Linked DNA regions of Homo sapiens. The protein of the gene in region 3 purifies or fractionates together with the protein of the main gene of each other region. This does not show direct contact. Each region holds a gene or a part of one and is shown on either strand. Other genes may lie near its edges. The genes, in order: RGS12, FBXO33 and ARL4C.

Region 1 (3,748 bases), on a different chromosome or scaffold from region 3:
ACCCATCCAGGAAATGCATCTATTCTAGGCTAACACTTAAGATCCAGAAGTCAGGTGTTGGTAGGGGAAGAACTTTCTTTTAACTGGAGTGCTAGCTCCCTGATCACTTGAACGCTCTATGAGAAAAACAAGCAAACTGCCAAAGACCAATGCCTGGCTACTAATCAAAGTGCCGGCAGCTCTGTCCGTAAATTGACAGTTCCCACATCCTCCCACGCTGCTAAATCAAGTTCCAACCAGACACAAGACACAAAAACCAACTCTGGGAGGTCCTGGAGAGCTATGAAAAGCAGGCAGAAAGTGGAGGGGAGTTGTCCCCTGAAAGGAGAGAGCTGCACCAACTAAAACAAGTGTTTCTAAAAATGGCTAGAGCACAGGTAGAAGTTGTGATCCTCCCAGCTTGAAGAGTCCAAGATAGGGCTTGGGGAGGGCTGGGTGGCTGAACAGTGAGGGGCATATCTCAGAAAGGAGGTCACTGGGGAAGAGGCAGTCGTGAGATCTGTTAGTAAATTCTGCCTAGGTCCTGGCCAGTGGTGAGCCATCCATGCACAGAGAGACCCCAGAGTCCAGCAGAAGGAGGCAGCCGGAAGGTCAACAGCACCAAGCAGAGACTGCAGCAGAGATTTTCATTTGAGTCCAGACAAATTAACTTCCAGAACAAAAATCAACACTCTTCAGAAAAAAGAAGTCACTACAGTTACCATCTACAATGTCCAGTACACCATCAAATAACACTAGATGTTCAAAGAAACAGGAAGATGTGGCCCATAGTTGGAAGAAGCCAATAGAAATTGATCCTGAGGTAATGCAGGTGTTGAAATTAGCAGAAAAGAACATTAAAGCCGCTAGTATGTGTTCAAAGATTTAATGACAGTATGATCACAATAAACAAATGACAGAGCAGAGAAATGGCAACCATAAAAAATAAGTGAAAATTCTAGAAATAAAAACTACTGTAACTGAAATTTTAAAATGCACGAAACTTAATAGCAGTTTGAAGATGGTGAAAAATTACATATCCAAGAAGTTCAACAAACCCTGAGCAGGACAAATACAAAGCAAACCCTCCTAAGAACATCACAATCAAACTGCTGGAAGCCAAAAATCCCAGGAGGAGCTTGAAAGCACCTCATCATATAACATAAAGGAGCAACGCAGCTACCAGAGTGACTGACTTCTTAGAAACAGCAAAGGGGCAACATGACGAGACTATGAAAAAATAAAATGAAAAGTAAAAATTGCCAGTTGTGGGGGTGCATGCTTGTGTTCCCAGCTACTCAGGAGGTTGAGGCAGGGGGATCGCTTGAGCCCAGGAGTTTGGGGCTGCAGCGAGCTATGACTGCACCACTGCACTCCAGCCTGGGCAAAAGAGTGAGACTCCGTCTCTTAAAAAAAAAATTGAACAAACATCAAAGAGATCAACAAGATGAGAAAAAAGAGAATTAGAGGATCAACCTAGGAGGTCCAACCTCCAAATAAAAGTTCCAGAAAGAGAAAACAGCAAAACTGAAAGAAAATTATCTTTGAAATTTAAAAACTTCTATCCTCAGACTGAAAGGGCCCACGGAGTGCCCAGCACAATAAACGGAAGCAGATGCCATTATCGGGCTTCTCAGAACACTGAGGGAAAAGAGCCGCTTCTATGAGCTTGAGGCAGGAGAGATCACACACAGAAGAACTGAAATCAGAATGGCGTCAGACCTCAACAGCACAGAAACCAAATGCAATGAAGCAACATTTTCAAAATTCCGAAAAAATCATTGTCTAAAATTTTATACCCAGCTAAGTTAAAAGGTAATTGGAGAGTAAAATAAAGATGTTTTCTAAATCAAGGACCAAAAAAAATACCTATGTGATGTTTCTTAGGTATCAAAAGAGTAGGACTTCAGCAAAACGAGGAGTGAGCCAAGCAGAGAGAGAAGAGCAGGACCCAGTGCACAGGGAGCCCCACAGATGGAGGACAGCAGCGGGAAATGCAGGTGACAGCGGCGCAGCAGGTCTCCTGGAGACCAGGGCAAACGAGAGCAGGGAGAAGGCTCCAATCCCAAAGGGGTGGGGATGGGGCTAGTGTCCTGGATGCAATGAAAAACAAACCATTTTGATAGGTGGGTGACTAGAAGATGCTAATCCACAGGGCTGTGCGAGAGGACCTGTGCTCAGGGCACTCCTTGGCGCAGTAATGAGCAATGCTTACAGTCACACAAGAGCAAGGACTGTCGATTTCACCAAAAATGCAGTGATTATGATGGCACATAGAGGGACAGGGAGGCTGGTGGGACAGAGGAGAGCTAAACCTCCCCACGGCCTTTGGGAGAAATAAAAAAAGAATGTCTTAAGCTTTAAAGGAGCAGCTTCAACAGCAGTAAATGCCTGAGAAAACAGACCACTTAGGATCCCGCCTCTGGGGGCTGCGGCCAGGCAGGGCAGGAGAATGCCTACAACTGGACGCTTCAATCCACAGACTCAGCCCTTTTTCAGGCATGCTGGAAGGACAACTAAGATCACTGCTAAGGGACACAAAGATGTAGGAAAAGATATGTGAGTAGAGTGTGTATGCGTATCGGGTATCACCATGATTACAGAGTTGGGGACAGCAAGTGCATGGAAAAGCAGAAAGAAAAGAAAAACAGAAAGAACAAACTAGATGTTTCTTTTCTCTTTCACTGAAGTCCAGACCTTAAAAGACACAGAAGAAGGGAACTTCTAACACAAGAGTTCCTTGCCCGGAGCCCGAGGCAAGAGGCTCCTTCATGGAAGAATCTAGGCAACTTCTGCAACGGTGGCCCCCAAAACCACAGGTAAAACTGCATGAGCACTGTGTGGAGTATCCAGTTTGGAACTGGTAACGACCCCACCTCCTAAAAAGGCACAGCATGAGTGACCTCCCACAACCTCTCATGACTGGGGCTTGCATCCTGAGCAAGGCTTGTCTTCCTTCCCAGGACACCTGTTTCCAGGATGGCTCCCGCCTCTCCCCAAGGGCAGGGAAGTGAAACCACAGGGACCTTCCCTGGACAAACCCTGCCCATCCCAGAGAAGAGGCATGAGACGGGTGCTCCTCGCACACAATGGGAAAAGTGAAGTCATTTCGAAGACAAGTGAGGAGCCTGCTGTAGGCTGAATAGCGATCCCCAAAGATATCCAGGCCCTAATCCCTGGGACTGTGAAAGCCATACGGCAATACGGATCTGCAGATGTGAGTAAACTAAGGCTCCCAGGACAAGGAGATTATCCTGGAAATTTGAACATGGCAGAAGAAGACAGAAGCTAGGCGCGGTGGCTCGTGCCTGCAATCCCAACCCTTTGAGAAGCTAAGGCAGGAGGATCACTTGAGGCTAAGAGTTCAAGATCAGCCTGGGCAACATAGTGAGACCCCATCTCTACCAAAAAAAAAAAACAGAAAAAATTAGCTGGGCATGGTGGCACATGCCTGGGGTCCCAGCTACTCAAGAGGCTGAGGCAGGAGGATGGCTTGAGCCAGGAGTTCAAGGCTGTAGTGAGCTATGATTGTGCCACCGCACTCCACCTGGGCAACAAAGTGAGACCCTGTCTCTAAAAGGAGAAAATAAAGAGGAGGAGAAAGACAGCGATGTGACAATGGAGGCAGGGCAGGAGCCGGGAGCCAAGGAATGAGGCCAGCCCCCAGAAGCTGACCAGGGGGGCAGTTTTCCTCCAGCCCCCAGAAGCTGACCAGGGGGGTGAACGGCTCTCCTCCAGCCTCCAGAAGCTGACTGGGGCGGGCCAACAG
Region 2 (3,748 bases), on a different chromosome or scaffold from region 3:
GTAAGCTGCTCAACAATCATTTTAAGAAAAGAATAGGCTGGGCGCGGTGGCTCACACCTGTAATCCCAGCACTTTGGGAGGCTGAGGTGGGTGGATCACGAGGTCAGGAGTTCGAGACCAGTCCGGCCAACATAGTGAAACCCCATGTCTAATAAAAATACAAAAAATTAGCCAGGTGTGGTGGTGTGCTCCTGTAATTCCAGCTACTTGGGAGGCTAAGGCAGGAGAATCGCGTGAACCTGGGAGATGGGAGGTTGCAGTGAGCCGAGATCACGCCATTGCGTGTGATTCTGTCTCAAAAAAAAAAAAAAAAAAGGAATAAAATGATTAAATTTCTGTCTAGAAAATGTTACTGTGGCATTAGAAGAGTCTGGAAGGATGCCAGAACCAAAGTGGGGAGATGAGTTAAGAAAGTATTTTAGTAATAGAGATGAGAGATACTGGCACCTTGAACTGGAGTTTTGTTGGTCAATGTAGAGAAAATGGACAGCCTCAAGCTACATATCAGAGGTAAAATGGACAGGAATAGGTGCTGGATTAGCTATAGGGGGTGAGGGGACAGTAGGCAAGAATAACTCCTAAATTTTCTGGGTTGTGTTAACATGGTACAGTTTCTTTCTTACTGGGATAGGGAATATTAGAAATGAAAATCAGGGAATTTTTTGGGGGGGTGTGGAGGCATGGTGGTGAAGTAAACAATGAGCACTATTTTGCACATGTTGAACCTGAGGTGCTTTTAAGATAGTCAAGTCTTCCTAATCTTAGAATAGCAATAAATTAGGAAGTGATACATTTTTGACTATATAAAAATGAAAAACTTGATATCCAACAGCATACCTCACTAAAAAGGGCAAACCAACATTGTGAGAAAAATGTGTAACAAATGCTACATTTTAAAAAATTCATATATAAAATCACCCCACATAAGAAAAATATGAAGAATCCAAGTAGTAAATAGGAAAAGGTTATAAAACAGCCAATGTAGAACATGTCAAGGAAAACATCACAGGAATTACTAATGGAAATAATCTAATTTTTCTTGACCTTTAAAAAGTTTTAGTCACTCTGGTAAATCTAATCAACTTGACATGTGATTCTAAACTGTATTTTAAAAAACATTTCAAGGAGACATCGAACAAAAAAACCGTATTTTTTTCTGTTACAGAAAGGATATAAAACTGTTCTTGTGAGAATGGCTTCCATATTAGACTCCAAAGAATACATTACTAACATATATAAGTATGTCTGCTTTTAAGGTTTTTATCCTTTCTTTATTCTAAAGTTGCTACCATATCCATAAATTATAAAGACGTTAATTTGTTTTCCATAAGTTTTCTTAAAAAGAAAAATAAAAAAAATTAAAGGCTTCTAAAAGAATGGATATTTGGCTTTGGAGAATATAAGGTATTATATAAAGTAGAAAAAATATGTCACACAATTTCTAATAATACTCAGAGGGGACAGTCATACAGTCTCAGTATTTTTCTCCTTTCAACTCAACTTTCATTTATTTGGTGGTATTAAAATACACATGTAAGAGACTTTTACTTCTTCTACAAAGAAACACTAAGGACAACGGCCTTCCCTCTGTAAACAACTATAAAACTAGAGAAAACAAAATAATTGTTTTCAGACATTGGACAATAAGCAATATAGGACTGTGATCCTGAAAGATGGGGAAAAAATGAGGTGTGTATTATAAATTGCCTCCGATTATGGTCTGGAGAGAGTTTTCAGGTTACAACATAGCCTGGTAGTCTCCCTGAATCGAGGAGACAAGAGATTTTGGGGAGTTTGCAGTCTAGAATTTTAGGGCAGAGTACCAGAGACAAACTGTACAGAAAGAGCTTCACAGATTTGCAAAGACTTCATATTACCCAGGTTTTTGGCTGAGTAATGATTTGTACATGTGTTGGGCAAAACTACAAGTCTGAAGAGAGAACCGCTGGAAAGCAGTAGAGTCCACACAGTGGTAAGGTAACACGGCTCACAACTAGGAGAAAAATCCATCAACAGAAATATACTCAGAAATGGCAGATGAAGGATTTAGGGAAAGAACTTAAATCAGCTATTAAAACTATACTCCATAAAACTATTCATCCATAAAAAGAATATGGATTGGAAAGAAAGAAGCAGAAGTGTCCTTATTTGCCAATTACATGATCATTTACACAAAAATTCTAAGGAATCTAAAAAAAGCTACTATAACTATGAGTTCAGTAAAGTTAGCAAGTTTAGTAAGGTCACAGGATACAAGGTCAATATATAAAAATCAATTGTATTTCTACATGCTAGCAATGAACATTTGGAAATTAAAATTTAAAAAACAACTTTTTACAGTAGTATCAAAAATACAAGATATTTAGGAATAAACTGAACAGAAGTATCAGTCCTATACACTGAAAACTACAAAACATTGTTGAAATAAATCAAACAAGATCTAAGTAAATGGAATGCCATGTCTGTTGGTTGGAAGTTTCAATACTGTTAACATGTCAATTCTCCCCAAATTGATCAACAGACTCACACAATCCTAATAGGTACTATGCTTTACAACAGATCTCTAGAAATTTTTCATCTTGCAGAACAGAAATTTTATACTCATTGATTAACAGTTTTCCATTTTTCCCTCCTTACAGCCCCAGCAATCACCATTTTATTCTCTGCTTCTGGGAGTTTGACTATTTTAGATACCTCACATAAGTGGAGTCATGTAGTATTTGTCCTTCTGTGACTGGCTTATTTCATGTAGCATAATGTCCTGTGGGTTCATCCAGTTTGTTGAATATAGTAGGATTTCTCTCTTTTTTAAAGGCTTAATATTATTCCATTGCATGTCTATATCACATTTTCTTTATGCATCTTTTGATGGACATTTGGGTTGTTTCCTTATATTGGCTAATGTGAATAATGGTGCAGTGAACATGGGTGTGCAGATATCTTTGAGATCCTGATTACACTCTTTTTGTATACATATCCAGAAATATTCCATTATTGGATCATACGGCAGTGCTATTTTTGATGAATCTCCATACTGCTTTCCATAGTGGCTGCACCATTTTACATTCCCACAAACAGTTGTATAAAAGCTCCAATTTTTCTACATCCTCACAAATGTCTATTTATTTAGAGACGGTCTCACTCTCGTTGCCAAGGCTGGAGTGCAGGGCACCATCTAGGCTCACTGCAGCCTCAACTTCCCAGGCTCAGGCGATTCTCTCACCTCAGCCTCCTGAGCAGCTGGGACTACAGGTGTGCGCCACCATGCCTGGCTAACTTTTTTTGTATTTTTTAGTAGAGACAGGGTTTCAGCATGTTGGCCAGGCTGGTCTTGAACTCCTGGACTCAACCAATCTGCCCATCTCAGCCTCCCAAAGTGTTGGAATTACAGGCGTGAGCCACCATGCCTGACCTTAAATTTATTTTTGATAATAGACATGCTAAGATGTGAGTTGATATCTCACTGTGGTTTTGATCTGCATTTCCATGATTAATGAAACTCAGCATCTTGCCATATGCCTGGAGGCCATTTGTATGTCTTCTTTGGAGAAATGTCTATTAGTCTTTTGCTTGTTTTAAAATTAGGTTAAATTTGTTATTTTGCTATTGAGTTATACGAGTTACCATATTTTGGATATTAACCTTTTACCTTGATAGATGGTTTGCTAATATTTAACTTCCATTTCTCTTTGTTTTTTGGACACAGAGTCTCACTCTGTGGTCCAGGCTGGAGTGCAATAGCACCATC
Region 3 (3,748 bases):
TGATGACCCAAACCACCACCACCTTTGGGCCCAGAGCAGGACAAATGAAATTTCAACAGGGGCCTGCCCTGTGACCGAAAATTACTCAGCTTCACAGCCCCTGAATGCAAGGAGAGGTGGTCCCCCCAGAACCAACATGCCCCCCAAGGTGGGTACGCCCACGGTTCTGGGAAATGCATACCTCAGGTAATTCACAGGTGCGATCCCCCAGTGGAGGCGGGGCAGCCTGAACTTCTGGCCCTGCAGGAGTGGGAAGAAATCGCTTTTGTCTTTCCGACAACTGAGCCTTCCACCTGGGGCTGGGAGGGCGGACAGCAGGACCGGCTCTTCCACTCCCCACCGCGGCCCCCCGACCTGGTCAGTAGCTCTGGCGTTCAGACAAAAGGTCCCCTGAGCTGGGGGTGGGGGGCAGGTCGAGAGTAGGCCGGTAAATCAGACTTCGCAGCTCCTTAAGTCACCAGTCCTGCATTTGGGTGCAGAGATTCCGTTTTAAAAATTCGAAGCATCGCTTTGGTTCGCTCTTTGTTCGCGGGCGCGGGTTCTCGCTCATCCATCCATCCATCCATCCAACCATCCATCCATCCATTCATTCTTTCTTGACGCACTCGCTCGCTCCCCGGTCGCTCCGGGCGCATTACCGCTTCTTCTTCTGCTTGAGGGACTTCCTGCGTTTCAGGATCATCTCATAGAGCTTGTCCATGCCCTCGGTGAGGCCCTCGCCGATGATGGCGCACGCCGGCTGGACGTGATAGGTGGTGGCCGGGATAAGCTCGTGCAGCGCCAGCTGCTTCTCAATCTCTGCCACCGGCAGCGACTTGGGCAGGTCCTGCTTGTTGGCGATGACCAGCAGCGGCGTGCCCTGGTTCTCGGCGAACTTGGTCACCTTGTGCAGCTCCGTCTTGGCCTCCTCCAGCCGGTCCACGTCCACCGAGTCCACCACGTAGATGATGCCGTCCGTGCAGCGGCTGTAGGACTTCCACAGCGGCCGCAGCTTCTCCTGGCCGCCCACGTCCCAGAAGTGGCAGCTGATGCCCTTGGCCGTGCCGTTGCTCAGCTTGATCTTCTCGGTGTTGAAGCCGATGGTGGGCACCGTGTTCACGAACTCGTTGAACTTGAGCCGGTAGAGCACCGTGGTCTTGCCGGCCGAGTCCAAGCCCAACATGACGATATGCAGGGACTGGAAGGCCGAGATGTTAGAGGAGATGTTGCCCATGGCTCCTGGCTGCGGCGCCAGCCACTGCGGCTGCGGCGGGAGGGCGCCGCCCCCCGAGCAGTCACGGGCCCGACGCGGCCGGGCGCACCTGGGCCCCGCCCGCCGCCGCCCGCACCGGCCCCGGGGCTCGGCGTCCCCGCGGGCGCACGGCTTGGCGCGCTCAGACGCCGCAGTCCCCGCGCCCTCGCCGGCCGGGCTCGCGATCGGCGGGCATCGCGTCTCTACGCGCGGCTTTGTCTCCCGCGAAGCCGCCTCAGATGTTCGGCGCCCTCCCCAGGCCTGGGCTCGCTCTGTGGTTTCCTCGGGCCGCGCCCCCGCGCTCCGGCAGCTGCCCGGGCTCTCCGCTCTCCCGGCGCCCGGCGCTCGCCTCTGGCCTGGGACGGCGCTGCTCCTGCTCCTGCTCCCGCTCCCGCTCCCGGAGCGCGGGCTTCCCCGGGAGTCGCTGTCCGCTCGGCAGCCTCACAGTCCCCGCGCCGCCGCAGCAGCCGCCAGCCTGCAGCGGCCGGAGAGCTCCCGGACCCGCCCCCTCGCGCCCCGCCCCGGACCCGCCCCCGGACCCGCCCCGGGCCCCGCCCCGCCCGCCGCCGGGGGTCAGGCGCGGTCCTCCCCGCCCAGCCGGCCGTTTTCGCGCGCTTCGCTGCGTCCCCGCCGCCCCCCGCCGCCCCCCGGCCCCTCCCGCGCCGCGCCGCGCAGACACAATGGGCGCGGAGCCGGCTCTTCCTCCCCAGCGGCTGACGCGTTTGCAAAAATAGCTCTCGGCTCCCGGAATCCCCGCCCGGGTCCTAGCCCGCCCCCTGCCCCTCCGGGCCGCAGCCGTGGGCGACGCAGCCTGCCTGAGGGAGTGGGTCCCGGGGTCCCAGCTCTGTGGGCGCGAGGCGGGGCAGGGCGGCCCCCAGGGTGACTGGGAGAGCGCCGCTCTGGGGAGTGAGGGCGGCGAGGCTGGGGCCTCCAAACCCCAGAAGGGACGGGACGGGGCTGGCCTCGGTGAGCTGCCAGCCTGCGCTCTGGATCCAGCCGGGCGCGTCCCCTCCCACCCTCGCGCCGCGGCTGTCGCCGGCCCCGGCCCCCAGTGACGCCCAGGCTCGCCTCCTGCCTGGGTTCCAGGGGGCTGCACCCGGCCAGCGCCGCCCTCCGGAGCCCAGGCCTGTGCCCAGGGCACCCTGGAGGCCCAGCCTTTCTTGCCCGGTGGCGGCGGTTGGGGCAGGGTCGGACCTAGGCCGCGATGGGGGATTAGAAGACCTACCTGCCCCAAGTAGCTCGGACAGCTCACCCTCCCAGACACGCCTGGGCTACCTCATTTCGTCCGCATCGACTCTGCTGACATCCCAGGGGAAGCGTCAGCATTTCGGGAGAGCACCCCTTGCCACCCGACTTTGGGAACTGAGAACCACCTGCCCGCAGGTGAACTACTCCGCAGAAATGGCAACACCAGCCCCGGGGGCTGAAAGAAAATGTGTCTACAGCTTGGAGCTGGTGGCGCAGTGGGTTACAAACACTGATATTCCACGGGTTCCACCTCCTGTCACCTCAGTTCAATGGTTTTATTCTGGTTTGTAAACATGTAACAAATGTATATCCTCTCTGGGTGCGGAGAAAAGTGAGAGTATATTATGGCAAACACACAGATCTGGGGAGAGCTGCTCCGCAGGAGACAGCAGGCCGCAGCATGGGCGACCGCATCTTCCCAGCTCTAGCTTATGAGACAGAAACGACGGAAACGGGGTCAAGGGAGAAGAAAATGAAAATGCTAAGAATTTATGAATAAAAGCTAGAATTTTAGAGAAATACTTTATCACCTTCTGTTCACAAACCACGAAAAGACATATGATATCGTTGGTACCAAAGCATGTGAGAAGACCTCACCTGTAGAAGGAAGGACAAGCCACCACCACCCCTATCCTTGGAATTCCCAAGGTGGCAGCCGGAGCGACCATCCACTCTACTGAGTGGATTTGGGGCTGGAAACGAAGTATCAGGCTGGAAAGGACCCTGCCTATCATTCCACCCAACGTTGTCCAGTGAGGTAACAAGGCCTAGGCGCCCGTGACGGCTAAGGCAGAACCTAGAGGCCCACTGCCTGCTCCAGGACCAAGGGTCTGTATGCACAAAACTGGGCACCTGCCTGCCCTCTTCCTCACATCCCACTCTACCCACACGCTATTTCCTTCAATGAGGAATAAAGTGAGCCACCCGAAGGATAGAGTTCAACAGAAAATATTGGCTGCACTGTGCCACTTACTTCATTTTAAATAAAAATGGAAATGTATTCACTGACATCACTGAAAAGTTAAGGATAAAGGTCCTCTTCAGGCATGGCTAGACCCAGGAGCTCAAAAGGAGTCTTTCGAGCAGGTGTCTCTCCAGTCCTCCTCCGTGTTCCCCTGTGTTGATTCTTTTTCCTTCTGGCAGCCTTGGACTCACATCCTTGGTTTAGATCCTGGAAAGGAAAAGGTACAACTCTTTCCCAGTAACTCTAACCAAAGCCTGGAGCACGCACCCTGGATCAAGGACTGCAGTCCAGGAGGAGGGAACACA

Evidence for each region.
Region 1: the proteins of ARL4C (region 3) and RGS12 purify together in Homo sapiens (co-immunoprecipitation; 3 studies listed by BioGRID and IntAct, with this or other methods). This does not show direct contact.
Region 2: the proteins of ARL4C (region 3) and FBXO33 purify together in Homo sapiens (co-immunoprecipitation; 3 studies listed by BioGRID and IntAct, with this or other methods). This does not show direct contact.

Annotation. Positions count from the first base shown.
Region 1 is NC_000004.12:3,296,007-3,299,754, reverse strand, and holds part of RGS12 (regulator of G-protein signaling 12), read right to left. Parts: intron 1-3,748. UniProt on the Homo sapiens protein: Regulates G protein-coupled receptor signaling cascades. Inhibits signal transduction by increasing the GTPase activity of G protein alpha subunits, thereby driving them into their inactive GDP-bound form.
Region 2 is NC_000014.9:39,404,832-39,408,579, forward strand, and holds part of FBXO33 (F-box only protein 33), read right to left. Parts: intron 1-3,748. UniProt on the Homo sapiens protein: Substrate recognition component of a SCF (SKP1-CUL1-F-box protein) E3 ubiquitin-protein ligase complex which mediates the ubiquitination and subsequent proteasomal degradation of target proteins. Probably recognizes and binds to phosphorylated target proteins.
Region 3 is NC_000002.12:234,495,374-234,499,121, forward strand, and holds the start of ARL4C (ADP-ribosylation factor-like protein 4C), read right to left. Parts: upstream 1,709-3,748; 5' UTR 1,214-1,708; coding exon 639-1,213; coding exon of another isoform or gene 635-638; exon of another isoform or gene 464-634; coding exon 433-463; 3' UTR 1-432. UniProt on the Homo sapiens protein: Small GTP-binding protein which cycles between an inactive GDP-bound and an active GTP-bound form, and the rate of cycling is regulated by guanine nucleotide exchange factors (GEF) and GTPase-activating proteins (GAP).